Linked DNA regions of Homo sapiens: region 1 is linked to region 2. A link means that fine-mapping ties the variant in region 2 to the expression of a gene that starts in the linked region. Tissue or cell type: tibial artery. Region 2 holds a variant in brackets; the other region holds the start of a gene. All regions are shown on one strand. Distances are from middle to middle.

What was found. PIP is the estimated chance that this variant, and not a neighbour inherited with it, causes the effect.
Region 1: TATDN2 starts here. The variant in region 2 is fine-mapped to the expression of TATDN2 in tibial artery (GTEx, PIP above 0.99). The same link has a PIP of 0.9 or more in aorta and prostate.

The regions. Positions count from the first base shown.
Region 1 is chr3:10,247,321-10,250,223 of GRCh38, reverse strand. It overlaps TATDN2 (TatD DNase domain containing 2), which reads right to left and starts at 1,765. Exons shown (of 8, transcript NM_014760.4): 1 at 1,157-1,765; 2 at 610-1,029. The coding sequence starts at 1,023. RefSeq lists an enhancer at 329-1,197 and a silencer at 1,450-1,879.
Region 2 is chr3:10,272,298-10,275,200 of GRCh38, reverse strand. The region is part of intron 4 of TATDN2 (TatD DNase domain containing 2); the gene reads right to left. Among named protein-coding and RNA genes, the nearest start is that of MIR12127, 6.6 kb to the left of the region's middle. The variant C/A (reference allele first, on the strand shown) is at 1,782.

The DNA.
Region 1 (2,903 bases), 25 kb after region 2:
TTCCATTAGGGAATTAACAATTTAACCTCCAAAAAAAAAAGAAAAAAAAAAAAAACTAGCACCACCAAGCAAAACCCCAACATGCTGGAAACTATGACTTTGGAGAAAAGCTACACCAAGAACCGCAATTCTTGGTTCTGTGATTCAGAGTGGTTCAAAGTACAAGGGCACACAATTCTTTAAACTGACAACTAAAATAAATACATTCTTCTCTTGAGCACATAATCCACCTTCTACTGCAGTGATTCTCCAACGGGGCTGCACGTTTACAATAACCTGGGGAGCACTGAAAAATCTGGAAGCCCAGACCACACCTCAGCCCAATAAATCAGTTTCTCTGGAGTAGGAGGCAGGCCCAAGTATTTTAAAGCTTTCCAAGTAGTTCCAAAGTGCTGCCGAGTTTGAAAATTACCTCTCTACTTAACTTCAGGCCACGCGCCTGGAAGACTGCTAGGTCTTCGAGTTTGGGGGGAGTGGACTTCTAGAAAGACCTTCCAGACCTTCAAGGATGTAATGTTTTGTAGTCTCCTTCCACCAAAATTCCCATCCCCAACCTCTCAAGCCATGTGGAAGGGGCTTCACCGATTGCAAAGCGTGGCAGCCACCTACCTTAAGGCTGCAGGCTTCCTCCTCTAGAGAAGCCATTTCTTCCAAAGAGGCGTTGGCAGGACGCAGAGGGGATCCCCCTGAAGACAGGAACCCCCGAGTGTTCCGAATCAGGCAGCCTTTGGAGGCGGCCCCGCCCACACCAGGGCCCAAGAAATGTGGGGAGAAGGAGGAGGAGGAGTTATTTCTGCGGCGGGATGAGCCCCAGGATAACCTCCGCGAGCAAGCCACATCGTCCTCCTTCTGGGCTTTCAGGCGCTTGGGGCTGCTGGGCCCTCCAGAACGCGACGCAGACCTCTGAGCTGGCCGGCTGGAGGGGGCCACATCACAGGGCTCCCGGAGGCAGCTGCGCTTGCGGGGACACCCTTCCGACGTGCTGCTCCAGTTGTGCTTGACCTTGCCCCGCTCGGACGCCATGGGCACCTGCAAGGTACAGGGGGCCTGGATTCCAACACCACCCTTCCTGGCGACCCCACCTCAGATTCCCGCCACCCCGGGCCCAGGAGGACGGCAAGACATAAGGGCAGAGCCAGGGGCTAGCCTCACTGACCTTTCCCTCTTCTTTCCACTGCCCATCACAGTTCTCAAGGTTTCAGAGATGCCAAACCGTGTTGGAGAAGTCAAAGCGATCCAAAATTGACTAAAGGCTGCCGTCGGTTTCCAAGCCCACAACGTGCTTCTGAGATCAGGAAGCCTTCACTTTGCCCAGCGCTACTTCGGAGATGCCTAAGCGCTTCCGGGGCTACGAAGCGCTTTGATCAGTTTGCAATATAAAGCCCTTTAGAACTGTCAAGCGCTTCAGAAGACCACATGGCGCTTCAAGATCCACACATGGCTGCCGGATCCGCGGCCCCGGGGCCGGGCGCTTAGCCCGTAGGCCAGGGCCAGACCCGGGCGCCGCAGCCCGCCCTGCTCCTGCGGCCCAACCAGACCCGGGCCGGAAGGGGCCCGAGCGGCCCCTCGGGAGCTGGCAGCGCCCTCGACCGCCAACTCAGGACGCCCCCCGCCGGCTGCCGCAGCTGTCCCGCCGGGCAGCCCGCCGCCTGCCCCAGCCCTACAGCCCCGCCTGGCCCGGCCTCCGCCCGAACTGCGACCACTCCGGCCTCCGTGGCGCCCGCCCTCCGGAACGAGCCCTGCGGCCCGCAGGCCGGAGAGCGACAGGGGCGGGGCCTGCGCCAAACGGAAGGCGCCCATTGCTCGACCCGGCAAGGGGCGGGACTCCGAGCAAGACGCAGCCCGCCTCAAAGCCAGGCGCCTTGGAGTCGGGACGGTACGCCTTAGGAAGCTCGTCCATTGGTCAGAAGCCAGATGGGGCGGAGCCACTCACGTGGGCTCGAACAGCGGGAAGTTGAGGCCAGCCAGATGTGCAGGCAGGTGGTGTCCGCTGACGCGCCTCACTTAACGCTGTTTTCCTCAGCGCCGGCCGCTGTACCTGAAGCTTTCAGACCTGGATTTCTCATCGAGCCAAAGCAAACCGTGTACTGAGCATTATCACCCCACTTTATAGAGCAGAAAACTGTGGCTCAGAGAGACTAAGTACACACCCAGAAATGGGAAGAATTAGAATTAGAAGGCACCAAAAAAAAAAAAAAAAAGACTACACAAAAATGTGAACTATCCGCCTGGTGAAAAATATTAAAGACGGCTGGGCACGGTGTCTCACGCCTGCAATCTCAGCACTTTGGAAGACCGAGGCGGGAGGATGGCTTGAGCTCGGGAGTTAGAGACCAGCCTGGCCAGCATGGTGCGACCCCCATCTCTACAAAAAATAAAATTAGCTGGGCGTGATGCCAGCTACTCAGGCTGAGGTGGGAGGATCACTTGAGGCCGGGAGGTCGAGGCTGCAGTGAGCTGTGATCCCGCCACTGCACTCCAGCCTGGAGGACAGAGCAAGACCCTGTCTCAAAAAAGAAAAAAAATCAAAGACAAGGTACAAATTCAGAAAAATACTCGAAACATATGACAAAGGGCTGATATTCGATGTAGCAATTCTCCCAAAATAATAAAATAACTTAGTATTAAGACTGGCAAAGGAGGCTGGGTCCAGTGGCACACGTCTGTAATCCCAGCACTTTGGGAGGCCGAGGTGGGTGGATCTCTTGAGGCAAAGAGTTCGAGACCAGCGTGGGCAACATGGTGAAATCCTGTCTCTAGTGAAACACAAAAATTAGCCTGGTGTGGTGGTGGGCGCCTGTAGTCCCAGCTACTCAGGAGGCTGAGGTGGGAGGATCCCTTGAGCCTGGGAAGTCGAGGGTCCAGTGAGCCAAGATTACTGCCACTGCACTCCAGCCAGGGAG
Region 2 (2,903 bases):
AAGCCTGGCCAACATGGTGAAACCCTGTCTCTACTAAAAATACAAAAATTAGCTGGGTGTGGTGGCAGGTGCCTATAATCCCAGCTACTTGGGTGGCTGAGGCAGGAGAATCCCCTGAACCTGGGAGGCAAAGGCTGCAGTGAGCTGAGATCATGCCACTGCACTCCAGCCTGGACAGAGCAAGACTGTCTCCAAAAAAAAAAAAAAAAAATTAATTCATTATAAGCAAATTACCTCATATTAATGTTTCCATGAGTAGTTTCTACAACTGTGGAACATAATTTGTGTTTATGTTTTCAGCATCAAACAATGAGATACTTTTTGTAATTTGAGTCAGGTGATATTCACTTGAGAATATTTACAAGTCTAACACCTGTACTGCCTCTTCTCAAAATAGCAACACTAAGCCAATACCAATTCTGATGTAACTTTTGTTTAATCTGTGTTTTCAAAGAAAGGAAAATGACCACAGACATCAAAATTATAGACTGCTTGACAGAGGCTTTATCTAAAGCCTGGCCAGTTCCACTATCAATAGGTGGCTGGAGCCCCTCCTATTTGCATCTGCTAAGCTGTTCATCTGCCCTCCCCGACCCCTACACACAGGCAGCAGAGGTTTCAAGAGATTCCAATTCCAACATTTCATTCCTGCCTCTAAAAAATTATCCCTCAGAGTAGTGAAATAAACTATTAGAGCTTTAGGATAGAATATTACACAGCTGTTAAACATTTTTCAAAGTATAGCTGATGAATGGGAAAATTTCACGAGTAGAAAAGACACTTAAAACTATTTAATTTCCTAATTTCTTTCTTTAACACAAGCACACACATCCAACCTACGACAGGTGCATGGAAGACAAGCCACTGTGCAACTGTTCCTTGCAATTGTATTGTACCTTGCAATTTTCCAAGGAACAATAACATTACATTTATAATGTTTCATGAAACACATCCAGATTTCAAAAATGTTAAGAAGGAAGAAGAACTCATTAGAATGCAGGAACTTGTGGTTGGACAGGAGCTATTTGCAGCATTTGTCCTCACCAGGAACCCAGCTGAAAAACAACAGGAGTGAAGGAAGTACAGATGAGTTATTACCCAGTATAATTACTCACTTCTACCTGCATAAGGTTGGCTTCCTAACTGATCCATTATTTCCAGGGATTCCAGAGTTAGTCTCTCCTGGGAGTTGCCCCAGGCATCTCTTGCATATTTATTACTTTAATAATTAATTAATTCCTCTTTAACACAAGTAAAGAGATACAGCCTGGGTAGGGAAGGACAGTCTACTCTCCCTGGCATCCCTCCCAGATGCTGACATGTGCAACTTACACACAAACTATTCAGGATCTAACTCTTATGAGTTACATAGTTAATCTGTAAACACCACAGATCAACAAAGAAAACGTTAACAGTAATTTGCTCTAACCAGCAGAATAACTATAACTACCCATTCTTTCCCCAATTGTTTTGCTTTTCTCTATTTTCCAATCCTTCCAGAAAATTTTAGGTACATCAACCAAACTCTCCTATAATGAGCAGGGTCTGTCACCCTATCATCTTGCCCAGATACAGACCTTCCACAGGCTCTTTTTTTTTTTTAATGTAATAAAGATGGGGTCTCACTATGTTGCCTTGGCTCATCTTGAACTCCTAGGCTCAAGCAATCTCCTGCCTCAGACTCCCAAAGTGTTGGGATTACAGGCGTGAGCCACCTCGCCCAGCCCTCTATAGGTTCTTCTTCTTCCCTTCACAAGATAAAACATTCAGCAGGACACATC[C/A]AGAACTTGCTAACTGCTCTTTTAGGTAAATGCAACTCAGCACTGACATCCAACTAGGTGCAGTTGCCAGTCACCACCATTCACCTCATTTGGGTGCCAAATTTTTTATTTACATCAAAACAGTGTCCATATCCCCCACCCAGCCTAGGAGTCTCTGGTGTTGACAAATATTTTCTAGTCTTCCTCCCCTTTACAGGCAGCTTAGCCCTCTCCCAGCCAGCAACTCCTCAGACTCATTATCTTCCAGTCTTGAGTCAAATCTCACCAAGCCAAATGACATCTTCAAGACTGTGTTTATCCCCCTATGCCTATCGCTTCTAGTTCAGTTTGTTGTGCAGGTCGCCCCATGGACCTTTAAGTGCAGACCTGAGACCCTGATAATTTTGTCTTGAGACAGGGTCTCACTCTGTCACCCAGGCTGGAGCATAATCATGGGTCACTGCAGCTCAACCTCCCAGGCTCAAGCAATCCTCCTGCCTCAGCCTCCTGAGTAGCTGGGACCCCAGGCATGTACCATCACACCCAGCTAATTTTTTTTTTTTTTTTTGGTAGAGATAGGGTTTCACCATGTTGGCCAGGCTGGTCTCCAACTCCTGGCCTCAGGTGATCCGCTCGCCTTGGCCTCCCAAAGTGCTGGGATTACAGGCATGAGTCACCACACCCAGCTATACCCAGCTAATTTTTGTATTTTTAATAGAGACGGGGTTTCGCCACGTTGGCCAGGCTGGTCTCCAACTCCTGGCCTCAGGTGATCCGCCTGCCTCGGCCTCCCAAAATACTGGGATTACAGGTGTGATCCTGTAAATACAAAAAATTAGCTGGGCGTGGTGGCGGGAGTCTATAATCCCAGCTACTCAGGAGGCTGAGGCAAGAGAATCGCTTGAACCTGGGAACTGGAGGCTGCAGTGAGCCAATATCATGCGATTGCACTCCAGCCTGGCCAACAAGAGTGAAACTCTGCCTTAAAAAAAAAAAAAAATTAGCCGGGTGTGGTGGCAGGCACCTGTAATCCCAGCTACTCAGGAGGCTGAGCCAGGAGAATCACTTGAACTGGGGAGGTGGAGGTAGCAGTGAGCTGAGATCGTACCGCTGCCCTCCAGCCTGGGTGACACAGCAAGACTC